Homo sapiens: one gene and its partners. The protein of the gene in region 1 purifies or fractionates together with the protein of each later gene. This does not show direct contact. Each region holds a gene or a part of one and is shown on either strand. Other genes may lie near its edges.

Region 1 (7,029 bases):
CTTACTTGATCTTTTTCCATGTGTGCAATTCTTAAAGGTTTAAACTTTTTCCGACAAGGCTTTTCTGACTACTAAGGCTTTTCTGACTACTAAGGCTTTTCTGAGCTGAAACCTAGCTCACAATGGTTTTTTCTACTTCTAAGCTTCAATGTCTTTACTGCACAGATGCATCTTTCCTATTTGTGATGCAAGTGTCTTATATTGTTGAATTTTTCAGCAGTACTTTTTCTCTCTCTTCCCCAAACCATTTGATTCATAGAAGATAAGACACAGTGGGATGGAACAGATGACAAAGCTATGACCCATCTGTGCACACTTACCTGATCCTGCAATGGTGGTGAGCTTGCTTCGTTCAAGTGGAGGAGCCCACTTTGCCCAAATAGTAAACTGACCTGTCCATGCCATTCCCTGAAATGAAAATCATTAAGACCTTTGATATTTTGTAGAATTCAGAAATCTGGATCCCACCAAGAATGAGAAAGTATCTGGATACCTGGGCCATGCCCTGGACTGTCCGAACCATGATGACCAAAATCACTCCGAAGTCAGCAGCCAGTGGTGTAAAGAGGGTGAGAAGGGAAGAGATCAGCAAACCAGCACCAAGCATTTTTTTTGCTCCAAATATCCCTGCTAAATATCCACTTGGGATCAGAGTCAGTATTATCCCATAGTTGATGGAGCTAAAGATGATACCCTGAGTTTCTGGGCTCCATTGATACACAGAGGCCTGGGGGAAAAATAGGAAAACTCTTTGTCAAGAAGTCCTATTATGAAAATCTACTTTACAGTCAGAGTTGCTTGAGGTTAGTGAGACCCTAGTATAAAATATTGATTTTTGTTTCTCTCTATATTCTTCCTACCTTCCCAAATAACCAATTATACCCCTAATTTGCTTGTCTTAGTAGAAGGAGAGAAAAACAGAAGAAATGAAGAAAAGAGGTAAAGAAAATGATTATATAGATGAATAATAGGAAGAAGTAAATGGAAGAAAACATTGAGAGATATTTCATCTGTGAAAGCACTTCCTCTATTTTGCTTCTAGTAAAAGTTGAGTAACATCTTGACTCTTATATCAAAGAATTTTTTAAAACACACACACAAAACTTTACTGAACTCTTAACCAAAATCAGTGCCTAATTAAAAAGAAAAGTCAAGTTTGGGAATCATGGTCTGCCCTGGCTGAACTGAGTTCCTAAAACACATATTACAAATGAATAAGATCACATTCTTCTGATATAACTCAATAAATAATTTGAATTATTTTAAAATAACTACCTAAAATTCCTAAATAATTACATAAATTATATTACCTGAATATTTACCTAAAAATAAATAGATTTTAAAATAAATAAATAAAAAATAAAATAGATTTTAAAATAAAATAAAAAATAAATGCAATAAGGCCCCTAAATATCTGGCATCATGCTATAAAGTAGAGAGCCAAAGAATATAAAATATGAAATATTTTACCCACTCAAAAAAACTATAAATAATACAAGGTATATGATTCATGTGAGAATCAAGATTTGAGGATGAACATAAATAAAACAGAGACTTTGAGAGGAGAAAATAATAATTTGGGAAGGTCCCAGAAAGGAAGCAATACTTGAACTATCCCTTGAAAAATGACTATGATTTGTAGAAAGTCAAAAAGGAAAATTTTATCTCATCGGAAAAAATAGCAAAAGTGAACTTGTAGCATTTGGAAGAAACTAACAGGGACTCTGGCTTGCTCAGGGCAAAAACTTTCCATGGGTCATTGATAGCAGATGTGAGTGTGCTGAGAAGCAGGCCCAAATTCTGAAGGAACACAGCATGTCCAGTGAACACTGCATGTTTGGCAACTTGAAGGTGTCCAAGATTCCTGAGTAGTGAATCTACTCAGTGTGGATATGTAGACGGGATAATGGAGGAAAGACTGGAGACAATAAATTTATGTACTCATTGTAAATAAGCTAGGTCCAATGTAATAAAATCATTAATCATGAATTATAGGGATGACATGGGAAATGTACAGTACAAGATAATTTAAAGGATAATTTTTTTAATTGGGTAAATTCATGGTTTTCATATAAATGTAAAATAAACATACAACAAAGATTTTATTTAACTCATTGATTAATGGAGGAAGTAAGTAAGATGTTATAACTGGTTCAAAGGAAAACTCAAAGAATCACGCATAACACAAGCAGGAAGCAATGCTGAAATAGACTTTAAATATACAGCAGAGCCTGGCACAGTGGCTCACACCTGTAATCCCAACACTTTGGGAGGCCGAGGCGGGTGGATCACCTGAGGTCAGGAGTTCGAGACCAGCCTAGTGAAACCCTGTCTCTACTAAAAATACAAAAATTAGCCAGCCGCGGTGGCATGCCCCCTTACTCCCAGCTACTTGGGAGGCCGAGACAGGAAAATCTCTTGAACCCGGGAGGCGGAGGCTGCAGTGAGCTGAGATCATGCCACTGCACTCCAGCCTGAATGACAGAGGAAGACTCTATCTCAAAAAACAAACAAACAAACAAACAGCAAAATTGGCTAATTCAACTGGGAGGTGAGTGGAGAAAAGTTTTAACTGATTTTTCTCTTGGCAAAATTTATTTGCAAAGCTATGGACAAGAATCGTTTGCATTTCTATTGGTTATATAGAATTTACAGGGATATAAAATTGCTCAGAAACAATAAAACAGGCAGAGAACTGAATAGGATTGAGTAACCTATAAGAATGTGCCCAGGTAATACCTAGTTTTTCATTGAAGACATCACATAAACTGTTCCATTTTTAAATTTTTCACATTTAACTCTACAGTTCCCCCACCTTATAATCATAATAACCTCAATGAAATCTTATTTTTATTATTGAAGTAAGCAATGTCTCAAAGAAAAATAGTTCCAGTCAGTTTTAATTTGTCATTGGAAATGTATACTTCCATACTCCACAGAATCAAGATCTATGCCTTCCTTTCAAAGTTTTTTCTCTCAACAAAGAGCCCTATTTTCCATCATACTTACCTTTGTATCAAATTCCTTGATGGATATGCTGGAGTTATTGAAGGCATCTGCAACAGGCCCCTCAGTGGAGGCATTAGATAGACCTTGCTGCTGAGTGGTGTTCACCATGGCGATGATCGCAATGCTCAGACTCACACGCTGCGTTATCATGGTGAAGTTTGAGAAGTGCATGATAAGAGCCAGCCCATAGCGTAATGAACAGAAATCTGGACCTAGACAACAACACAGATGTATGTAGTGAGCATCCTGACTGAGACCCCTTTCTTTTCCTTTCTCTCACAGCTCGATCTGATAGAACTTTGGATGACACATGAAGTCTCATTGTCTTTTTTTCACCAAAATAGCCAGCACTACAAACCCACTTTGTCAAATTATTTGGTTGGCTTCAAGACAGCGAATATGGGATCTTATAACCAAGTAAAGCAAATATGGCCATCTTTCAAGGGGATAGGAAACACATGATAAATAGAGAAAACCCACATGTAAGGCATTTATGTCATATTGCTCCAAAATGAAGTGAATGGGGATGACAGTGGCAGAGCCAGTCACATAACCTTCTCAGCGTCAATAAAATTCCCTGGGCTGTAAGTGAATAGTCCCATCTGTTATGCACATTTGTTTATCACAAAGCTTGAGAGTTTATACATAACGAGCTGCCTTTGAATTAAGGTATTGCACATCCAAGGATTCTCTTTTAATACATTTGAGAGATGGTACTTTAAATGAGCACTTCGACTAATTCCCTAGTGTAATGTCTACTTGGAAATGTTATTGCTATGTGTCACTAGGTCCTGCCTTCACATATGTTCAACTTAAAAAAAAAAAAAAACTACGTGGGGTGCAGTGGCTCACGCCTGTAGTCCCAGCATTTTGGGAGGCTAAGGCAGGTGGATCACTTGAGGTCAGGAGTTTGAGACCAGCCTGGTCAACATGGTGAAACCCCATCTCTACTAAAAATACAAAAATTACCCAGGCATGGTGATGCATGCCTGTAATCCCAGCTACTCGGGAGGCTGAGTCAGGAGAATCACTTGAACCCAGGAGGCAGAGGTTGCAATGAGCCAAGATCATGTCACTGTACTCCAGCCTGGGTGACAGAATGAGACTCAATCTCAAAAAAAAAAAAAAAATTAATATGTAGAACTATTTTTACAAAGCTTGCAGGTGATGTGGTGCTGGAAGATATTCAATATATTGAAAGGACAAATTTTTTCTTTAAAAGCATCCCCATAAAATGGAACAACCACAGACCAATATTGAAAGGGTTCCCATGTGCATGATAGATTGGATTTTTCCTGCTTATTTGAAGAAAAGCACTAAAGTGAAAGAAAGAGAAAACCTGTGAAGACACAGATAAAAATATAATGGAAGAAATAATTTTTAATGGCCAAAAAAGCTCACAGATAAGAGTGGTGGTCTGGGAAATAATTATTTCCATTTTACTGGAGGTTTCCAAGCTCAGGAGAAAGAGCCAGCCGCTTGGTGAGAATATTATAGTAGGGATTCATACATAGGTTGGTTTAAAATGACTTTCCCGGGCCAGGCGTGGTGGCCCATGCCTGTAATCCCAGCACTTTGGGAGGCCGAGGCCGGTGGATCACGAGGTCAGGAGATCGAGACCATCCTGGCTAACACGGCGAAACTCCATCTCTACTAAAAATACAAAAATTCATCTGGGCATGGTGGTGTGTGCCTGTAGTCCAAGCTACTCGGGAGGCTGAGGCAGGAGAATCACTTGAACCCGGGAGGCAGAGGTTGCAGTGAGCCGAGATCGCACCACTGCACTCCAGCCTGTGAGACAGAGCAAGACTCAGTCAAAAAAAAAAAAAAAAAAGACTTTCCCAAAACTTATTCCACTCCCTAGATCCCAGGATTTATTGCTTATTTGGCTTAATTTCTCACAGATGATTTCATGGGGCTAAGGAAAAAGCAACAGGATCAGGGGCTGGAGCTGGCTCCAATGTTACACTGGGAGTATCTTTACGAAGGGTCAGTGTGATGCAGAGATGTGTAAATGTGTCGGAATAAGCTTCAGCTTATTAACATAGCCTGCAAACAAGAGCAGTGGCTTTACCTTTCCTGGTGGCAGGCTTCCCGTCCATTTAGCTTCTGTGGGAAATGGTACCACGCTTTGTGGTGGAGTTTCCCTGTGCCCTGAATCTCTTTTACTACGACAGTCTTTTATCTATGGAGAGAACATAATCCAAAACATAATACACAAATAATTTCCCCTTGTTAATGTTGCCTCCTCTTAGCATCAGTAAAAGTTTTGACCCAACACAGCTCTATAACTTACATTTTATGGGGCACTACTGGTATGCTTTTGGTTACAGGATTGTTAAAAGGAAATCTGGCTGTAAGTTCCAGCTGTGTGACCTAGAGCTAGTCATTTAAATTCTCTAATCATTCATTTCCTCATCTGTTCAATAAAGATAAGGCTCCTTTCTTAGTGCAGCTGGAAGAATTAAATGAAAAATTGCATGTACTTTATCAAACCACAGAGAAGCATGCGAAGGTGAAGAGTGGTATTGCTTGTAGCAGACCATAAGACAGGACAATTAAACTAAGCTCAAGAGCTAAGGAGGAAGGTTCCAGAGCGGTCTTTCCTTTCATTCTGATGGTGTTTCTCTCCCCTCTGTACCACCAGAACAATGTTCCATGTGCCTTCGAACATGAAGGATGACATTACATAACACTAATATGTATTACATTTAAAAGTTTAAAATGTTTATTCTCATGTTTGCTACACACAATGTGGACACTTGCTTGGACTGACAAAGTCTTCATATCACCTAGAAAATTATAATGAACAGGGACTAATTACTACAATTGTGAATAAATCCAGCTATTGTGACAGGCAAAGAGAATTCATGGCTCTAAATATGGACATGTTTAATTTAATATTTGTATACTAATCAAATTATCTTTGGGGATGCATACATTTGTTTCTTTTAGGAAAAATCCATATCCTAAGAATATCATCAATTTTCCATTCATTCCTAAATTGAAGCTTCTATGACTTTATTTTTTAAATTGCTTAAAATCCTTCAAGACATCTGAAATTTCTGTGACTTTAAAAACACATGTATCGGCCGGGTGCAGTGGCTCACACCTGTAATCCCAGCACTTTGGGAGACTGAGGTGGGTGGATCACTTGAGGTCAGGTGTTCGAGATCATCCTGGCCAACATGGTGAAACCCCATCTCTACTAAAAATACAAAAACAGCCGGGTGTGGTGGCACATGCCTGTAGACCCTGCTACTAAGGAGGCTGAGGCAGGATAATTGCTTGAACCCAAGAGGCAAAGGTTGCAGTGAGCCAAGATCGTGCCACTGCACTACAGCTTGGGGGACAGAGCAGGAATCCGTCTCAAAACAAACAAACAAAAAAACACATATATCAAACCTCTATTTTATCATTCAAGGCTTTGCACTGTTTTTGCACACAAAATTTAAAAGACTTGTCCGTACTTTAAAGATATTCATAATCTGTGACCTTAGGATGAAGGATTATAAAGAAAGGCATAGATGAAAAATTGTGTCCAAAAATATCCTTTGTAGTATTACTCATGACTGCATAATGTTAGAGATAAATTAACCTAATAATGAGAGTCTGGCAAGTCAATTTGATAGATTATTGTGATGGAAGCTATTTTAAAATGTTTTCGACAATATTGAATTACATTAGAAAAATGCTAGTACTCTAGTGTACAAAGCAGGATACGCTGTGCACATCCACATACAGGAATAGAAACTGATTCACACAAGTGCCAGTAATGACTATTTCTGGGTTACAAAACAGGATGATCACTTCATTCTTTGTGACTTTCTATATTTACCAAGTGATTTTGTAAATAATTAGTAGATACTCATTTTATATTCAGAAGTAGCTAAATGTATTTAAAAGAGCAATAATTGGACTTCATCAGCATGGCAAGTATAGTTTTCTGCTTTCCAAATATCTCTAGAATTCTGGGAATAGTATCTCTCCATCTAAATTTTGAATTTTGGGTGTTTGGAG
Region 2 (7,029 bases), on another chromosome or scaffold:
TTGAATTAAATTTAAGTCAACAAATGTGTATTAAGTATTTTCTCTATGCTAGGCATTCGTTTAGGAGAATAATAGATATTTGCTTTATAGTATGCTTTTCTTGGCATAAAATATTTGCTAGACATAAAGTTACCAAAAAGTGCAGGAACCTAGTGTTTCTTTTCATTTATGTTTTAGTTTCTTCAATGTAATAAAACATGCTATGAACATCTCAAATTCTAAGATAAATATTTTTATATCGTAAGGCAGAAAAAAAAGTTAAAATGACTTAAAGATTTGTATTCTAAAGCAAACTATGATTCTTACACAAAAGTCAGCCACACAAGTTTGTTGGTTAATCTCTATGTGAGAAGACTAGACATTTACGATGAGCTCAATTTTGTAAAACAGTAAGTTTAAAGAATATAATATGACACATTTAATTTTTAAGAGGAGCAGCAGCATTCTGTGTCCATTGTGATGCACCAAATATAGTTAGATTTTGTCAACTTCATAAAACCTTAATAATTTTTAAAATTGCTTTCATAGAGTTTGGATTATTATAAAACAATTAAATGTCAGATTTAAATTTTTGTATTTTAATTTAGCTTTTCAAATTTATTCCATTGAGGTCCTTCAAATATTAATAGGGAGAGTACCAGTAAGTAGTACATTAAGTTTCAAAATGATCTATACTTCTAAGAGAAGAGATTACGTTTTTAAATATGAGAGAATTACATATATTTCCATCTAGTTTCTTTCGTGCCAGCAAAACTTTTGTGGTTTCAAGCAAGGTCTTTGTAGGAAAAAAGTTTCTCATTTTATTTTTATCAAAGTTGAGTTTCCTCCCGAGAATCTTGACCAGTGACATTGCAGATGCTGTTTCTTCGACTGGGCTCACTGTTTGGAAGGTAGGCCAGTGGATCTGGTCGAATTAAGTATCTAATAAAAGAAAACAAAATAAATAACTTTGCAATAGTAAATACAGGCAACATTAATTCACACTGACACTTCATATTTCTAATTTATTTGTTCAGTTTTCAGATTATCTAAACTGTCTGTATACAACATTGGTGGTAGAACTCACTGTTTGGTTGGCCTTTACAATTTGGCATGGTTAATATTATCATTTTCATACCTGAGAAGATTATGATGATGAATGCTGATGAATCAAGCACTATTATTTTTCTTCTTCATCTTTTTCCCTGTGCATGTTGACTGTCAGTCACCATTATTTTTCAATTATAATCAATTTCAGCACCTTCGTCTCATCAAAGTTTTATGATTAAGTATGCTGTTGACTTATTATCCCTTACTTTGGCCATTTTTCTATGAAGGAGACCTACATTTTAGCCATCATTCTTCCATTACTTAACTGTTCTTTGTCTTATTTTTATCACTTAAAAAATTAGGAGATTGATGTAAGCAATTTCTATAGTCTTTTCAATTTAAATATTTTATGAATCTATAAAATCAACAGTTTAACAAATGTTATAGTGAATATAATGCATAACGTTTAAATTAGCAGGAAAATTATTTATCTAAAATTCAGCTTATGGTATAGTAAGTGATAATACTAAAGTATAGAGAATAATTCTTAATTAATTCTGCTAGTAAATAGAAAAATGTTTATCTGCCAAACTCAAACATTTCATTAATGTGAGAATTTGTTTTCAGAGAGTTGTCTTACTTTAGACTGTCAAATGATGTACAGGCATGCCTTTTTTATTGCTTTTGACTTGATTGCACTTTGCCAATATTGAATTATTTATAAATGGAAGGTTTGTGGCAACCCTGAATCAAGCAAGTCCGTTGGAGACATTTTTTCCAGCATGTGCTCACTTAGGGTCTCTGTGTCAGATTTGGTAACTTGAACTTTTTCCATTGTAATTATATCTGTTATAGTGATCTGTGATCAGTAATTTTTGATGTTCCTATTGTAATTGTTTTGGGATACCACTATCCGCACCCATATAAGAAGGCAATTTTAACCAATAAAATATGTGTGTTCTGATCACTCCACCAACTGGCTATTCCCTCGACTCTTTTCCCTCTCCTCCACCATCTGTATTCCCCAAGACACAAAAACATTAAAGTTAGATTAGTTAATAACCCAAAAATGACTTGTAATTGTTTAAGTGAAAGGAAGAGTATCATGTCTCTCACTTTAAATCAAAAGCTAGAAATGATTATGCTTAGTGAGGAAGGAACATCAAAAGCTTACATAAGTTGGAAGTTAGGTCTTTTGTGCCAGTTAGCCAAGTTGTGAATGCAAAGGAAAAGTTCCTAAGGAAATTAAAAGTGCTACTCCAGTGAATACACAACTGATAAGAAAAGGAAACAGCCTTATTGCTGAGATGGCAAAAGTATGAGTGGTCTGGAAAAAAGATCAAACCAGCTACAACATTCCCTTAATCCAAAGCCAAATCCAGAGCAATGCTCTACCTCTTTTCAATTCTCTGAAAGGTGAGGGAAGTGAAGAAGCTATGGAAGAGGTTAGCTATGGAAGAGGAAGCTAGCAGAGGTTAGCTCATGAAGCTTAAGGAAATGAGTCCCCTCCATAACATAAACGTGCAAGATGAAGTAGATAGTGCTAATGCAGAAGCTACAGCAAGTTATCAAAAAAATCAAACTATTAATAAGATTATTGATGAAGGTGGCTAAATTAAACAACAGATTTTCAATTTGGAAGACAGCCTTCTATTGGAAAAAGTTGCCATCTAGTACTTAAGTAGCTAGAGAGGAGAAGACAAAGCCTAGTTTCAAAGCTTCAGTGACAAGCTGACTCTCTTGGTAGGGGCTAATGCATTCGGTGACTTTCAGTTGAAGCCAATACTCATTTACCATTCTGGAAATCCTAGGACACTTAAGAATTCTGCTAAATCTGCTCTGCCTATGCTCCAGAAATGGAAAAACAAAGCCTGACTGGCAGCAAATCTGTTTAAAGCATAGTTTACTGAAAATGTTAGGCCCATTGTTGAGACTTAACACTTAAAAAAAAGACTTCAAAATATCACTGCCCCTTGATAAGGCACCTGGTCACCCAAGAGCTCTGATGGAGATGTACAATGAGATTAGTATTGTATCATTCTTGCTAACACAACATCTATTCTGCAGCCCATGGATCAAAGAGTAATTTCAATGTTCATGATTCGTGGGATGAGGTAGAAATATCAACATTAACAGAAGTTTGGAAGAAGTTGACTCCAACCCTTATCGATGACTTTGAGGGGATCAAGACTTCAATGGAGGAAGTAACTGCAGTTGTGGTAGAAATAGCAAGATAACTAGAATTAGAAGTGGAGCCCAAAGATGTGACTCAACTGCTGCAATCTCTGACCAAAATTTGAATGAATGAGGAGTTGCTTCTTATTTATCATCAAATAAATTGGTTTCTTGAGATGAAATCTACTCCTGGTGAAGATGCTATGAACATTGTTGAAATGACTGTAAAGAATTTATATTATTACATAAACTTAGTTGACAAAGTAGCAGCAGGGTTTGAAAGGATTGACTCCAGTTTCAAAAGAAGTTCCACTTCGGGTAAAATGCTATCAAAGGGTATTACATGCTACAGATAAATATTGCATGAAAGAAAGAGTCAATCAATGCAGCATACTACTTCATTGTTGTCTGATTTTAAGAAATTGCCACACCCCTCCAACCTTCAGTAACCACTACCCCAATCTGTCAGCAGCCATCAACATTGAGGCAAGACTCTCTACCGGCAAAAAAAGATTATGACTCCCTGAAGGCTCAGATGACTGCTAGCATTTTTTTTTTAGCAATAAACTGTTTTTTAATTAAGTAAATTTTTAGACATAATGCTTTGCTTTTGCACACTTAGTAGACTAAAGTATAATGCAAACATAAATTTTGTATGCACCGGGAAACCAAAAAATTCAAGTGACTGGCTTGATTGCAATATTCACTCTATTGTGGTAGTCTGGAACCAATCCTGCAAAATCTCTGAGGTATGCCTGAGTATCTTTAGTGACTGCTTCTTGAGCACCTGTAGGAAACTGTGCTAACACCTTAGAATTAAAACAAAATCACAAAACATGACTCCTGTCCGGCAGAAGATTAAAGTAAAATTTATGAAGCAGATATAATGGAAGAAAAAAAAAGAAATTCCAAACATCATACAAAGTGAAAAAGAACAACAGAGAGAATTAGGAACTGCTTTATTGTGGGGTTGGGTTGAACTTGCCTCTCCAGGCTTCAGAGAAGATTTAGGAGGAAGGAACAGGAGGTGATCCCAAATGTTGTCAATGGAGACCACAGAGGATGGATGTTTCTGATGTGCTTAGAAATGATTTGACTTTAGAAAACTAGTAAATCATGGTAGGTAAAGTCAAAAACAAAGGTAGGAAACAGGTAATGAATGACCTTAAGTTTCAGAATAAGTAGTTTCAATTTGTGTTTTAAAGGCAGTAGGAAGCCACTAAGGGTTTGAAAAGGAGAGAAGAAAATAAATATATGCAACACAGCATTCTAAGAAAGTCATGTTCCAAGTCCAAATGAAAGAAGTATTTAATACTTCTATAATATTTTTAAGAGGCAGTATATAAAATGAACAGGAAAACTAATTAAAAAGTGAGAACGCTAATAAAGTTTGCACTTTTGTCTTAAAGACTGAAGGGAAAAATTCACAAAATATACTCCTTAATGAAAATGAGAAAAGGCAATCAAAAACACTGAGTCTATTTTCTTTGACCAAATAAAAGTTGAGACTAGTGTTCTTGGACCTATTAACTGGATTTTGTCATCTATGCACACTGCTTTATAGTTACTTTAAATATCAATAGCATTGTGGATTGATGAAGAAAACTAATAGTGCACATTACACTTTTTAATACCATATCATCTAGTGATTTATTATTGTTCGCATCAAATTAATGTTGCTTCTTCATTTAAAACAAACTTCCGAAAGTGAATTTTTAGAAAAACATAAAAGATAACAGTATAATCCATTATTCTCTGCATTCATTGATGCAGTAGCAAAAGTTCCTTTTCCTATTATTGTCACTACAAAACCTATGAGTCCAATAAAGCAAATTTCTTAAACTGTGTTTTTATATATTACATGTCATGGTAGGCATCTTTCAAATGATAATTTATCATTGTTCTGGTTCCACTGAAATTTAATTATCTCAATGCCACAAATACAGATCACTGCAATGGTGTAAGAAAAGCTTTTTTATTTTTTTAATAGCAGTCAAGTTGATGTTTTAGCTTAAAACTAATAAAAAATAAGAGTATCTAAAAGACAGAAAATTCTCTAAAAATATGTCTACTTTACCTGTCCACATTGTGACATACATATTTTATTCATAAGTAAAAAGATTAAACATCATTTGAAATCAAGAACATAAATATTTGACAAAATGACATGTTCTTAGTCTCAAAAGGGTGACAACATTTTCTTTGAACATTCTGTCAAAAATAATTATGGGAAATGATTGTATTAAGCTTAAGAAACATAATTTATTATAAAATACAAATAAGGTAAGCATAATTTTTTAAATTCTATATAATTAACACAATTATATTTATTTGAAAAAAGGTATAAGAAGGCTGGAATTAATATGGGTAGATTAGATATTTAATAAAAATTATCTATACTTATGGACTTAAAAGAAAAAAGACATGTATAAATGTGGATGCCATGAAAAAAGAACAGCTTTATTTTATTATCATAATATACTATGTGAAGGGTCCAGGATGAGTAATTAAAATCCAAGTGCATCATAAATAAGATGTTTTCCTCTAATTGAAGTCCTTTATAAATTCAATATCACCATCAGATACAATTTTTGACAGTGACTTAAGAATTCTACTAGCTTAAATTGTTATTCATCTGTTTCCCCAATGCTCCTGTATTCTAACCAGTATTATCAGATGGCAAAATAAAGCAATATTATACTTGATAGTTCTATCTTAGGTGCATTTTAGGAATCTTTTCACACTTATTTGGGGTCAGATTTACTCCTGCTGTTTTATTTTCCTAATAAGTTTTTGAAATGCTTCCTGTTTCTGCCCTAAAACAAAACACTCGTCAGTAGTACAACACTAATTATTCTACTGTTTCTTCTGTATTTATATTTTTGGAAAAAACATTCCCTATTTAGCCTTTTTCAGCTGGAAGATAAAAAATATTTTTTCTACAGAAAACTAGCTTATCTTCAAAGTTCCAATACTGTGTATCTAAATGCTTTCTAGACATTTCCTCTTTATACTTTAAATAACATATTTGAATGGATGGATGAAGAAAATTTGTGGTATATATGCAAAGTAGAATACCATTCATCCATAAAAAAGATGAAATTCTGTCATTTGCAGCAACATAGTCAGTGTTAAATGAAATAAGCCACAGAAAAACAACATAGTCAGTGTTAAGAGAAATAAGCCACAGAAAAACAAATATCATGTTTTCATTCAAATGTGTGAGCTAAAATAATTGATCTCATGGAGATAGTAGGCAGAATGTTACCAGAGGCTGGGAAGGGTGATGAGGAGGGGAAGATGGAGAGAAACTGGTTTATTAGTAACCAAAATACAGTTACACAGAAGAAATAAATTCCAGTGCTTCAAAGCACAGTAGGGCAACTATGCTTAACAAGACTTCATTGTATATTTCAAAATAGCTGGAAAAGAACATTTGGGATATTCCTAACACAAAGAAATTATAAATGTTTGGGGTAATGGCTACCTCAATTACCCTGATTGATCATTACATATTTTATGCATGTATCAAAATATCACATGTACCTCATAAAATGCACAACTATTATATATCAATAAACTTAATTAATTAGAAAGTCAACATTTATTAAAAATACATATATACCTGGACCCACATATCATCTCTTTTTTTTTTACTACCCAACAGCCCCTCTTTCCTGCCTGGAAAATTGTCTCCCCATTCTGACTTGTTTTGATGAAACAACATTTTTTTTTTATTTTTGTAATCACACAGTTTGAAACCCTAAAGCTGTGTTAAACTTCTTTTTCAATTCCCAAATCAATAATCAAGTCTCATTTTCTGCC
Region 3 (7,029 bases), on another chromosome or scaffold:
CACCATGCTGCCCTGGGTGGTCTTGAACTCTTGAGCTTAGGCGATCCACCCACCTCGGCCTCCCAAAGTGCTGGGATTACAGGTGTGAGCCACTGCGCCCGGACTTTTTTTTTTTTTTTAATGAGACAGAGTCTCACTCTGTCACCCAGGCTGCGGTGTAATGGCACTATCTCGGCTCACTGCAACCTCTGCCTCCTGAGTTCAAGCAATTCTCCTGCCTCAGCCTCTCGAATAGCTGAAGAGTCTGTCTTAAAAAGAAAAAAAAAGCCAGACGCACTGGCTCACGCCTGTAATCCCAGCACTTTGGGAGGCCAAGGCGGGCGGATCACAAGGTCAGGAGATCGAGACCATCCTGGCTAACACTGTGAAACCTCGTCTCTACTAAAAATACAAAAAATTAGCCAGGCGTGGTGGCGGGCGCCTGCAGTCTCAGCTACTTGGGAGGCTGAGGCAGGAGAATGGCATAAACCCGGGAGGCAGAGCTTGCAGTGAGCCTAGATCACGCCACTGCACTCCAGCCTGGGCGACAGAACAAGACTCCGTCTCAAAAAAAAAAGAAAAAAAATCCATAAATAAAAAGTACAGATAAAAAACATAAAGGGAGGAAATAAACATAATTAATAAATAAGAATACAAATGAATAAGAATAGTGGTTACCTTTAGGTAGGAAGGGAGGTTGTAATGGGAAAGGGCAGTCAGGTAGGCGTCTGTGGGTTGATAATGTTCTGTTTCTTGATCTCGATAGTTTTCAAGCATTTACTTTGTAATAAATCATTAAGATGCACATTTTTGTCTCATACACTTTGCTGCATGTGTAGTAGAACTCATAATAAAAAGTTTACAAGGCTGGGCGCGGTGGCTTATGCCTGTAATCCCAGCACTTTGGGAGGCTGAGGCGGGCGGATCACAAGGTCAGGAGATCGAGACCATACTAGCTAACATGGTGAAACCTCGTCTCTACTAAAAATACAAAATAATTAGCTGGGCGTGGTGGCGCGCACCTGTAGTCCCAGCTACTTGGGAGGCTGAGGCAGAAGAATCGCTTGAACTCTGGAGGCGGAGGTTGCAGTGAGCCAAGATTCTGCCACTGTACTCCAGCTTGGGCGAAAGCAAAACTCTGTCTAAAGAAAAATAAAAGTTTACAGTACTCACTCCTTATCCTCAGTACATATGTTTTAAGACTCCCAGTGGATATCTGAAACCACAAATAGTACCAAACCCTACGTACACCATGTTTTTTCCTCTAAATATATGCCCATGATAGAATTTAATTTATAATTTAGGCACAGTAAGAGACTAATAACAATAACTAATGATAAAATAGAACAGTTATAACAATATGTCAATCTTGCATTTGGGGTCACTATTAAGTAAGATAAAGGTTACCTGAACACAAGCACTATGATACCATGACAGTCGATCTGATAACCGAGTTGGCTACTAAGTGACTAATGGGCGGGTAGCATAGACAGTGTTGGATATGCTGGACAAGGGGATGAGTCATGTACTAGCCTGGATGGAGGGGGATGGTGTAAGATTTCATCAAGCTACTCAGAACGGCATGCAACTTAAAACTTATGAATTGTTTATTTCTGGAATTTTCCATGTAATATTTTCAGACAGAGGCTGACTGTGGTAACTGAAACCATGGAATGCAAAACCATAGATATGGGTGAACCGCTGTCTTTAAATTTATGGAACCAGTGTCACTTAATGAGAGAATGGTATAAATATTTGTTGACTCTCTTTCTTGGATTTAAGTACTTTTCTTAACCATATCTTTACTTACTCTAACAGGCTTACAACATCCTTTTCTTGGAAATTATCTTTTAGCAATTAATCTCTTTACTGTAGCTCTTTAGCTTCCAAGCTCTATTAACACCCTTTCACTGGAATCAATAGCTATAATTACTTTCCGTAGTAAGGGCATCTATTCTTGAATTGTCTATACTTCCTAACATGGGGCATTGTTTGTAGAACCCCAATTTTTTTTTTGAGATGGGGTTTCACTCTGTCACCCAAGGCTTCAGTGCAGTGGCGTGATTGCAGCTCACTACAGTCTCGACCTCCTGGACTCAAGCAATCTTCTCCCCTTGGTCTCCCAAGTAGCTGAGACAACAGGAAGCATCACCACACTCAGATAATTTTTATATTTTTTGCAGAGATGAGGTCTCACCACATTGCCCAGCCGCTAGTCCCAAACTCCTGGGCTCAAGTAATCCTCCCACCTCGGCCTCCCAAAGTGTTGAGATTATAGGCATGAGCCACTGTGCCCAGCCCAAACCCCAAAATTTAATTTTGTGTTGTAACACACAAAGATTAAGCAATAATTTGTATAACTGCAAGGTGTACAATATAAAGACAAAGCAAGTATATAGACTCATTGGGGACGAAATAAGCATCAGCCAGTTTTTCTGGGAATTTCCACATCTGCCTCCTATCATTGATTATTTTAATCTGTTTGTCTTCAGTTTTTGTCTACCCAACCCTAGTTCAAAACCCAGGCATCTGTCTAGAAAAAGCTTTCACAGTAACAGGAAATTTGATTTAGTGATAAGAAATATGAATAATCTTTTATTAAGACCAACCCATTATTTATTTTCTACAACTATACTAAAAGAACAGCTAAGTGAACACAGTTCAAATTATATTTTGATAGTAATTACAAAGCATATAGCTAACTATTGCTCCTATCTACCTTTCTAAATGCCTAAATGTTTCAACGTCCCCTGTAAGGTGAATAATAAGCATCAAAATATAGCAGATTAAAACAATTCTGCACCAAATTATGGTGACCCAGACTCTGGTCTACGAACTGTCATCAATTTGATAAACTTAAATAAAGGTAGTATTTTTATCATAAAATTTCTCACTTTTGGAACATGAGGATTAAATTCCACAGCTCTATGAATTGCTTCCACGGCATTAATTTCTGCTGTGCTTAATCCTCTTCTGGAGGCTGTTTCTGGAGAGAATCTACAAGAAAACCACAAAATGAAAAAATAAATATGCTAAAAAAAAGAAAAAAAGTATGAATTTAGATAATAATACAGCCCCTTGAATCAAAAGAAGTTTCTGGAGATGGCCAAAAACAAAGCCAGAGGACTAACAAAAAAAAAAAAAAAATTAAAGCTGGCCGGGCGCAGTGGCTCATGCTTGTAATCCCAGCACTTTGGGAGGCTGAGATAGGTGGATCACCTGAGCTCAGGAGTTAGAGACCAGCCTGACCAACATGGAGAAACCCCGTCTCTACTACAAATACAAAATTAGCTGGGTGTGGTGGTGTGTGCCTGTAGTCCCAGGCACACATGGGAGGCTGAGGCAGGAGAATCACTTGTACCCGGGAGGCAGAGGTTGCAGTGAGCCAAGATTGTGCCATTGCACTCCAGCCTGGGCAACAAGAGTGAAACTCTGTCTCAAAAAAAAAAAAAAAAAAAAAAAAAGTATAGTCTTGTGGGTTCAACATAGAAAAAACAAAGCAGCATAAGGAATGAAAGTCTTCAAACTTAGGTAAAGAAGGCCTTCAGGAGAAGTCCACTGAAGGTACACTTTAGGAAAGGTAATAAAGTAATAAATGCAACACAGTGATATCCAGAGAATCTCATGAAATAGCAGTACATTCTTATCAAATTCTTATTTGAGAGGACACAAATGGAAAATTCCATTCTAATTCATATCAAAGCATAAAAATCTAAGGTGAAAGAAAATGGCCACTATTTGGTTGGTTTCTGAGTATCTTACCTGCACAATAAAGAGAATTCACTAAGAGTAGCCAAAAATACAAGAAAAGCAGAAGAACTCAGAATTATACTCTAAGAAGAGATAACATAAGCCTATTTCCCTACTACACACTTTATCATCATCATCATAGTTACTATTTGGTGTGTGTACTTTCTTTCTAGATATTGCTTTAGGCACTTACCACACATAATCCTCCTACAACCCTCCTGCAATATTAGTCTCATTTTACAGATGAAGGAGAGACTCAAAATGATTAACTTGCCTACAGTCCTATAGCTAAAATGTGGTAGAGTTTGAATTTGAGCTCAGGTTAGCTCTAAAAACTTTGCTCTTTCCACTACACACAGCAAGAAGCCTAAAAGCCCAAGAAGATCCAGGGCTATTCAGAAGGAAGTAGAGTGGAAAACAGCATTGTTTAAAGTCAGTAGAGGACAAGCATAATACTGAGTTTAGCAGTCTTTCCAAATCATTGTAGTTTTTATAACACGTACTTTTCTGAAACAGTCCTTGTCTTCAACAGTGCTGCTGTGTAACAGATTGCTGCTGACTTTGGAAGGCTTATATCTGTAACGATAATTTTCAATTTAGGTAGGAATTACAAAAAAGGTATTGAGACAATTTTTTAATAAGAATAATTCACGGCCAGGCATGGTGGCTCATGCCTATAATCCCAGCACTTAGGGAGGCTGAGGCGGGTGGATCATGAGGTCAGGAGTTCAAGACCGGCCTGACCAAAATGGAGAAACCCCGTCTCTATTAAAAATACAAAAATTTGCCAGGCATGGTGGCGCATGCCTGTAATCCCAGCTACTCAGGAGGCTGAGGCAGGAGAATCGCTTGAACCTAGGAGGCGGAGGTTGCAGTGAGCCAAGATTGCGCCATTGCGCTCCAGCCTGGGCAACAAGAGTGAAACTCCGTCTCCAAAAAAAACAAAACAAAACAAAACAAAAAAAAGAATAATTCACAATGCAATGCAAATTCAATAGTTATATAGGAAAAACCTGGACGTGATGTTGAAAAATCTATAATATAGTAGGAAAAACCCGTATATGAAGTTGAAAAAGCTGAATCTGAATCTTTATCTTACTATTTACCAGCTAAGCATCTTTGAGCTAGTAGCAACTTGTTTGACCTCAGTTTTCACCTCTCAAAATAATGATATTTTCTGACCGAGATGAAATTATGTCTATGAAAGCCGTCTGCACAACGGTGAAATGCGTTCAACCAATGTCTACAATAACCTGCTTATGGACGGGCGTGGTGGCTCATGCCTGTAATCCCAGCACTTTGGGAGGCTGAGGTGGGTGGATCACGAGGTCAGGAGTTCGAGACCAACCTGGCCAACATAGTGAAACCCTGTCTCTACTAAAAATACAAAAAATTAGCCGGGTGTGATGGCAGGTGCCTGTAATCCCAGCTACTCAGGAGGCTGAGGCAGGAGAATCACTTGAACCTGGAAGGCCGAGGTTGCAGTGAGCCGAGATTGTGCCAGTGCACTCCAACCTGGGTGACAGTACGAGACTCTGTAAAAAAAAAAAAAAAAAAAACAATAAAAAAAAAACCTGCTTATAGTAAGTTCAGGGGAAAAGGCATGGTATAATTAGAACTATGTAAAACCTTCACCTATTCATAGAGAAAAACTAATATTAGAAAAAAATTAAAATATTTAACAGTAGTTAAATCCAGGTTGATTCAACCGAGGGTGATATTTTTCTTCTTCCTAGATTTATTTTTCTTAAATTATTATTTTTTAGAAAATAAAAATTTCATCTGGAACTGTAGGTAAATTAATTATATCAATCATTCTCAAAAGAATATCCAAAATAATGCTATCAGAAGATGTTTCTGATCCCAGAATCATACTAGCAAATGGAGAACTAAGGAAGTAAATTTGCTTTCAACTTCCTCCAGATTCTGGAATGGTAAAAACTGGGACTCATGAAAATAACTGAAAATACAGAAGCATATCAACTTAGATATGCTTTATTAGTTTTAGTTTTATTTTATTTTTAATGAATCAGGTCCTATTCCAGTTTGTTACATTCAGTCCCTAAGCTTGCTCATCATAAGTATTATAAGCAGGCCATGTATCCAGTAAGTTACATATGGAAAGAATTTCTCACAAATTTCTCCATGAGCCTACACTATTCTGAAGCATTGCTTAAGAATTCCAGATGTTTAAAAGAAGTAAACTTCTCTTTCCAAGTATAACACATTTCAAACTTCCCAAGTCATGGGGATTCCCAAGCAAATGGGTAGGAACCTATAACAGGACAAATGTGAATAAACGACCTTTTTCTTTGTTTTTTTTGTGAGATAGGGTCTCACTCTGTCACCCAGGCTGGAATACAGTGGTGCAATCTTGGTTCACTGCAACCTCTACCTCCCAGGCTCAAGAGATCCTCACACCTCAGCTTCCCGAGCAGCTGGGACTACAGGCGCATGCCACCACACCCAGCTAAATTTTTAAAATATTTTTTTTAGAAATGGGTTTTCACCATGTTGCTCAAGCTGGTCTTCAACTTCTGAGCTCAAGCAATCCACCCGCTTCAGCTTCCCAAAGGGTTGGAATTACAGGCATGAGCCACTGTGTCCAGCCTTCAATGTGACTTACATGTGTTCTCGTATAGTGAAAGATACCACCAGAAGCATAGTAACCCCAAATTTTCAGCTTGAGGTTAAAAGCTGATGCCTCTCTCAGGATAAGAAGGGAGGCTTTATGTCTTTAAAATTCTCCAAACTTCATGTGTGGTAAACTGGTATTGTTATAACATAATAATAAAAATAACTGCCAGGTGCGGTGGCTCACGCCTGTAATCCCAGCACTTTGGGAGGCCGAGCCAGGCAGATCATGAGGTCAGGAGATCGAGACCATCCTGGCCAACATGGTGAAACCTCATCTCTACTAAAAAAAATACAAAAAAATTAGCCAGACATGGTGGCAGGCACCTGTAGACCCAGCTACTCGGGAGGCTGAGGCAGGAGAATGGCGTGAACCTGGGAAGCGGAGCTTGCAGTGAGCCGAGATTGCACCACTGCACTCCCGCCCAGGCGACAGAGTGAGACTCTGTCTCCAATAAAAAAATAAAAATAACCAATATATATTGAATTGTTACCATGGAAAGACTAATGAACTAAGAAATCAAACACCTGGATTTGCCTTTTACTGGCTGGGAGACCTTACTCCAATACTTTAACCTTCTTAAATTCCAGTTCCCTTATTCAGTTAATTGGAGACAGTAAAAATACTTGTCCCACAACATCATAAGACTATTATAACGATCATAT
Region 4 (7,029 bases), on another chromosome or scaffold:
TTTCAGAAAACAGTAATTGATAATGTGTTTCAATTTCAGGGTTTCTCCTCTTCAAAAATCTGAAGTTGTTGAGATGGTTAAGAAACAAGTCAAAGTCGTAACGCTTGCAATCGGTGATGGAGCAAATGATGTCAGCATGATACAGACAGCGCACGTTGGTGTTGGTATCAGTGGCAATGAAGGCCTGCAGGCAGCTAATTCCTCTGACTACTCCATAGCTCAGGTAAAGCGTCATTTCTGCAAAACACATCATTCCTCTCAGTCAACTGATGCTTTGAAAAGGAAAATACTAATTTTTTCCCACTCTTGTTTTAGTTCAAATATTTGAAGAATTTACTGATGATTCATGGTGCCTGGAACTATAACAGAGTCTCCAAGTGCATCTTATACTGCTTCTACAAGAATATAGTGCTCTATATTATCGAGGTAATAGCAGGTTAAATTTTAAATCCTTGTCATTTGCATACATATTTAAAGAAATTTTCTTTATGGAGACGTTTTCTCATGGTTTTAATTAATATTTTATTTGCCAACTCTTTATAAATTCTAAATGTATTAAAACAAAAAGGTGGCCTGTAATCCCAGCACTCTGGGAGGCCGAGATAGGCGGATCACTTGAGGTCGGGAGTTCGAGACCAGCTTAGCCAACATGGTGAAACCTCGTCTCTACTAAAAATACAAAAATTAGCCAGGCGTGGTAGCAGGCACCTGTAATTCCAGCTACTAGGAGGCTAAGGCAGGAGAATCACTTGAACCCAGGAGGCAGAGGTTGTGGTGAGCTGAGATTGTGCCACTGTCCTCCAGCCTGGGCAACAGAGTGAGACTCCACCCCAAAAAAAAAAAAAAAAAAGTTTGTCAGCCATGGAGAATTATGTTTAAATTCTAGCTAAAAATGTTATGTTGCTTTGATAAGAAGTGTTGAATTAGAGATGCTAATGAGATAATAATGTATTTAATGTAAAAAATACATTATTAATAATGTATAAAAGTCTATAAACTTGACTGCATTTTTAATAAAGCTCAAAAACATGCAAAAGAAAGCAATACACCATGGAGGGATAACACACATGTAGAAAAGCTATTTTTTAAAAAAGGTGAGGGAATGAGAAACATCAACTGAAGCTAGCACCTCTAATTCTGGGAGGAGACAAAGAAGTGCAATCAGGAAGAATATGCAGGTAGCTTTGCTGGTATTGTTGCCTTGTTGTTCCTATTATGTTTCAAAACTTAGATCTTTGTTACATACAAGCATCCCTCTCTATCCAGATCTGTTTTTGTTTCCGTGTTTGGTGAGTAGCAAGAGTTCAGATGATGAAAAATTTGTCTAAAAATTATCAGAATATTTAGTTTCTGTCTGGATAGCAAGGGATTTCTATAATCCGTTTTATGTGTCAAACATAACATCATTTTAAAAATGAAAACCTGAGTCAGGAATACCACTTTTAAAAGGATGCATTTTGTTCTGTAAACAATTTTGTAGCACCTACTGAGCCCAGACACCAGGCTTAGTCCAACAACTACAAAGTAAATCAAGCATGGTTCCTGTCCTCCAGGAACTTGCTGTATTACTGTTCTCACACTGTGGATAAAGACATACCCAAGGCTGGGCAATTTACAAAAGGAAGAGGTTTAATGGACTTACAGTTCCACATGGCTGGGGAGGCCTCACAATCATGGAGGAAGGCAAGGAGGAGCGAGTCGCATCTTACATGGATGGCAGTGGGCAAAGAGAGCTTGTGCAGGGGAACTCCTCTTTATAAAACCATCAGACCTCAAGATGGTTATTCACTATCACGAGAACATCACAGGAAAGACTTGCCCCCATGATTCAATTACCTCCCACTGGGTCCCTCCCACAACACATGGGAATTCAAGATGAGATTTGAGCCAAACCATATCATTCTGCCCCTGGCCCCTTCCAAATCTCATGTCTTCACATTTCCAAACCAATCATTCCTTCCCAACAATACCCTAAAGTCTTAACTCATTTCAGCATTAGTTCAGAAGTCCACAGTCCAAAGTCTCATCTGAGACAAGGCAAGTCCCTTCCGCCTATGAGCCTGTAAAATCAAAAGCAAGTTAGTTACTTCCTAGATCCAATGGATGTACAAGCAATGGGTAAATACAGCTACTCCAAGTGAGAGAAACTGGCCAAAATAAAGGGACCACAGGCCCCAGGCAAGTCCGAAATCCAGCAGGGCAGTAAAACCTTAAAGCTCCAAAATGATCTCCTTTGACTCCACGTCTCACATCCAGGTCAAGCATGCAAGAGGTAGGGTCCCATGGTCTTGGGCCGCTCTGCCCCGTGGCTTTACAGGATACAGCCTCCCTCCCAGCTGCCTTCACAGGCTGGCATCAGGTGCACAATGCAGTCAGTGGATCTACCATTCTGAGGTCTGGAGGACAGTGGCCCTCTTCTCACAGCTCCACTAGGTGGTGCCCCAGGGGGAACTCTGTGTGGGGGCTCTGACCTCACATTTTCCTTCTCCACTGCCCTAACAGTGGTTCGCCATGAGAGCCCTGCCCCTGCAGCAAACTTATGCCTGGGCATCCAGGCATTTCCATACATCTTCAGAAATCTAGGCAGAGGTTCCCAAACCCCAGTTCTTGACTTTTGTGCACTCTCAGGCTCAACACCACATGGAAGCTGCCAAGGCTTGGGGCTTGCACCCTGTGAAGCCACTGCCCGAACTCTATGTTGGCCCCTTTCAGCCATGTCTGGAGCAACTGGGATGCAGAGCACCAAGTCTCTTGGCTGCACACAGCACGAGTGTACCCTGGGCCTGGCCCAGAAAACCACTTTTTCCTTGTAGGCCTCTGGGCCTGTGATGGAAGGGGCTGCCATGAAAACTCTGACATACCCTGGAGACATTTTCCCCGTTGTCTTGAGGATTAACATTTGGCTTCTCATTACTTAGGCGAATTTCTGCAGCCTGCTTCCATTTCTCCTCAGAAAATGAGATTTTTCTTTTCTATTGCATTGTCAGGCTGCAAATTTTTTGAACTTTTATGCTCTGCTTCCCTTACAAAACTGAATGCCTTTAACAGCACCCAAGTCACCTCTTGAATGCTTTGCTGCTTAGAAACTTCTTCCACCAGATACTCTAAATCATCTCTCTCAAGTTCAAAGTTCCACAGATCTCTAGGGAAGGGGCAAAATGCTGCCAGTCTCTTTGCTAAAACATACCAAGAGTCGCCTTTGCTCCAGTTACCAGCAAGTTCTTCATCTCCATCTGAAACCACCTCAGCCTGGATCTTATTGTCCATAGCATTATCAGCATTTTGGTCAAAGCCATTCAACAAGTCTCTAGGGAGTTCCAAACTTTCGCACGTTTTCTTGTCTTTTTATGAGCTCTCCAAACTCTTCCAACCTCTGCCTGTTACCCAGTTCCAAAGTCACCTCCATGTTTTTGGGTATCTTTTCAGCAGCACCCCACTCTACTGGTACCAATTTATTGTATTAGTCTGTTCTCACGCTGCTGATGAAGACATACCCAAAACTGGGCAATTTACAAAAGAAAGAGGTTTAATGGACTTACAGTTCCACATGGCTGGGGATGCCTCACAATCATGATGGAAGGCAAGGAGGAACAAGTCACGTCTTACATGGGTGGCAGCAGGCAAAGCAAGAGAACTTGTGCAGGGGAACTCCCCTTTTCAAAACCATCAAATCTCTTGAGACTTATTCACTATCACAAGAACAGCATTGGAAAGACTTGGCCCCATGACTCAATTACCTCCCACCAGTCCCTCCCACAACACATGGGAATTCAAGATGAGATTTGGCTGGGGACACAGCCAAACCATATCACTTGCCAACAGAAATACAATGCAAGCCACATTAGCAAAAAGCAAAAAAAAAAAAAAGAAAGAAAAAATTGATCTCAGTATATTTTATCTAGCTCAATGTATTCAAAAGATTATCATTGTCACCTGTAATCACTGTCAAAAATTATTAATGAGACATTTTACATCCTTCATCCTAAGTTTTCAAAATCTGGAGTATATTTTACATTTATACCACGTCTCAATTTGGACTAATCACATTTAAGTGTTCAAGAGCACGTGTGGCCAGTCTCTACCATGCTGGGCAGCACAGCAGTGGTAGATAAATAAGTGAACTGAATGGTTAATCAAGGCATGATAAATATGTTATTTGCCTTTTTTTAAAAAGTTGCCTTCTTATTGTCAGAAGCTATATGTGTAGTAATTCTAGGTGTTATCAGTTTCATGTCCCTGTTGGAGCTCTGCAGATCATGACAATGGCCTTCCCATTGTTAAGAAAACCTCATTCTCCCACTCCTGTCAAGGACCCACCATGGTCTCATAAATCTGCTGAGGGTTCCCTTACAGATAGATGTTTGTTTCTGCCACTTTACCATTTAATCTGTTGACTGTTTCTACACGTCTGTCAAAAAAGATACAGCCAGGCTGGGTGCGTTGGCTCACGCCTGTAATCCCAGCACTTTGGGAGGCTGAGGCGGGCAGATCACAAGGTCGGGAGTTCGAGACCAACCTGGCCAACATGGTGAAACCCCGTCCCTACTAAAAATACAAAAAATTAGCTGGGCATGGTGGCAGTTGCCTGTAATCCCAGCTACTTAGGAGGCTGAGGCAGGAGACTCATTTGAACCAGGGAGGCAGAGGTTGCAGTGAGCCAAGACTGTGCCACTGCACTCCAGCCTGGGCAACAAAGCAAGACTCCATCTCAGAAAAAAAAAAAAAAAAAAAAAAAAGATCCATCCATTTGCTATATGGAAATCATATTCTATCCTTTACTCTGAGAAGTAACAGTATAAACAAAGTCAGTACGTTGACACTTTCGTTGGGGGCTGGTGTATATTTGCTTCACCTGTTCTTTGTGCCTCTGTCAGAATGCTTATCTCCTTGTTAAATGTTGACTGAGCATAGTTCTTATTATGAGTCAGGCTAGTAAAATTGAAACTTAGTTTTGAAGTGTACAGGCAGTTTGGTGTAATGGTCACTAAAAAGGTTACAACCTATTAGATAAAATAACCTAATACAGGCCAGGCGCAGTGGCTCACGCCTGTAATCCTAGCACTTTGGGAGGCCGAGGGGGGTGGATCACGAGGACAGGAGATCGAGACCATCCTGGCTAACATGGTGAAACTCTGTCTCTACTAAAAATACAAAAAATTAGCCAGGCGTGGTGGCAGGCGCCTGTAGTCCCAGCTACTTGGGAGGCTGAGGCAGGAGAATGGCGTGAACCCGGGAGGTGGAGCTTGCAGTGAGCAGAGACCACGCGCCATTGCACTCCAGCCTGGGTGACAGAGCGAGACTCTGTCTCAAAAAAATAAATAAATAAAAATTAAAAAAATAACCTAATATGTGGAAATATAAACAAGATACGTAAATGAACTTACTCGTTCATTACTGCTAGATTTGGTCTGGAATAGTGTGTGTTTTGAAGCAAAATGCACTTCTAAAATAGTTTATAAGATTCAAAAAAATATTCTTTGTTGTTTATATAAATGTGTAGTTCTTTTCTAAAGTAATTATTTTTCTATTCTCAATCCCTTCTATATATCTAGCTTTTCTATTTATATGTTCTTCTCATTCCAGAACACTGACATTCAAGCAAATAACAATTTATACAGTTTATTTACATAGATTTATCAAGATACCAGGAATTTAAAGCCACTGCCAGCAATAAATCTGCTTATAAAAAGTTAATTTTATAAAATAAGAATGTCCAACTTGTCGCTTTTTAAATCTAAATTGACAGCAATAAAGTAGACAAAATTTATGTACTAATGAGAAAATAAAAACATTAAAATCAAATGAAAACAATCTTCATGCCCTGTCCTGTTTCAAACCCAGAATTATGTGATTTGTGGTTGATTAACCCTAAACTTCACTTGCCTTTGATTTTAAAACCTGTTCATGAGATATTTGACACTGATCAAATTCTTTACACAGTGAAAAGGAAGTGAGTTCTAAACTTTACTGGAAATCTCATTTTTATTTTTCTCAAGAGTTTGTGGAAATGTATTTTGAATATGATTCAACTGTCTTGGTAATGACCTTTTAAATCAATTCCCAGATACCCAACTTTTGCCAGCTAAAACAAGTTCTGCAGATGTTAATGGCTCATGTCAATACTGTGAATGAATAGACAGAAAACACATCATTGAATGTCTCTAGTGAGGACAACTGCCAGTCTCGAATCTCTCCTTTCAGTTTTTTGTGCTGATCAGGCGTGGGAGCAGAGGACTCATTGACTGTTTGTAAGCTGCTGTTTAATATGCAGAAATGCTCCATCAGGAAAATGAATGTGAAGCTTTAGCTGCCACGCCTCTACTGGGAGGTGGAATTTAGAAAATAATGCCAGGAGAAGCAGGTCTGAAATTTCTATGCTAATAAAGGAATAGTCTTGAACACTATGTGTTTTATAGATTTAAAACTACAAACACTGCTTTTCTCCTTGCTATATTGCTTAGGAAAGTCACTATCTAGATATTCCATTGCTGTAAATTACAGCCAGACGAATACAGATTTGGCAGATGGTGGTATAAAGCTCTTTCTTACAGGAGCTGCCCAGGAGCAGCTCTAGGTGTTCATTTAAATTATTGGCTCCTTTTAAAGAGAGATTTTTTTTTATTTCTCTGATATGTCTGACTCCTTCCTCATAAAATAAGACCTTTCCTTTCAAATGATTGGTCACATCCAAGTTTTCTGGGAAGATCTCAAAACCAAGTTGTGTTTCTAATTTCCAGAAGCTTTGATAAAAGTCAATAAGGTGATACTGTCCCAGCAAGTGGTGCTGGGAGTTGAATTCCCTGTGAATTTAAATAAACTAGACACCTCCCCAGAGGGACCGGTGTTTTCTTTCTGAATCTGTGGCTCTGGTTGAATTAGAGGAGGTACTTTTATGTGTTTGGGATAATTTAGATGTTGTTTTATTTTGCACGGGATATGTTCCCAATATTAACTACAATCTCAGCCTAACTTGAAATCGGCCTGCTGGTAGGCTACTTCACTGTTAAAGACCTTCTCTTTCTCCTTTAA

What was found.
Region 2: the proteins of SLC17A2 (region 1) and KCNT2 purify together in Homo sapiens (affinity purification with mass spectrometry; 2 studies listed by BioGRID and IntAct, with this or other methods). This does not show direct contact.
Region 3: the proteins of SLC17A2 (region 1) and ST7L purify together in Homo sapiens (affinity purification with mass spectrometry; 2 studies listed by BioGRID and IntAct, with this or other methods). This does not show direct contact.
Region 4: the proteins of SLC17A2 (region 1) and ATP8A1 purify together in Homo sapiens (affinity purification with mass spectrometry; 2 studies listed by BioGRID and IntAct, with this or other methods). This does not show direct contact.

Annotation. Positions count from the first base shown.
Region 1 is NC_000006.12:25,920,686-25,927,714, forward strand, and holds part of SLC17A2 (sodium-dependent phosphate transport protein 3), read right to left. Parts: intron 5,195-7,029; 5' UTR 5,112-5,194; coding exon 5,084-5,111; intron 3,222-5,083; coding exon 3,010-3,221; intron 728-3,009; coding exon 494-727; intron 409-493; coding exon 321-408; intron 1-320. UniProt on the Homo sapiens protein: Acts as a membrane potential-dependent organic anion transporter, the transport requires a low concentration of chloride ions. Mediates chloride-dependent transport of urate. Can actively transport inorganic phosphate into cells via Na(+) cotransport.
Region 2 is NC_000001.11:196,227,415-196,234,443, forward strand, and holds part of KCNT2 (potassium channel subfamily T member 2), read right to left. Parts: intron 922-7,029; coding exon 810-921; 3' UTR 1-809. UniProt on the Homo sapiens protein: Sodium-activated and chloride-activated potassium channel. Produces rapidly activating outward rectifier K(+) currents. Contributes to regulate neuronal excitability.
Region 3 is NC_000001.11:112,574,113-112,581,141, forward strand, and holds part of ST7L (suppressor of tumorigenicity 7 protein-like), read right to left. Parts: intron 5,265-7,029; exon of another isoform or gene 5,195-5,264; intron 4,306-5,194; coding exon 4,233-4,305; intron 2,977-4,232; coding exon 2,874-2,976; intron 1,122-2,873; coding exon of another isoform or gene 1,014-1,121; exon of another isoform or gene 1,002-1,013; intron 1-1,001.
Region 4 is NC_000004.12:42,458,087-42,465,115, reverse strand, and holds part of ATP8A1 (phospholipid-transporting ATPase IA), read left to right. Parts: intron 1-39; coding exon 40-223; intron 224-315; coding exon 316-426; intron 427-7,029. UniProt on the Homo sapiens protein: Catalytic component of a P4-ATPase flippase complex which catalyzes the hydrolysis of ATP coupled to the transport of aminophospholipids from the outer to the inner leaflet of various membranes and ensures the maintenance of asymmetric distribution of phospholipids.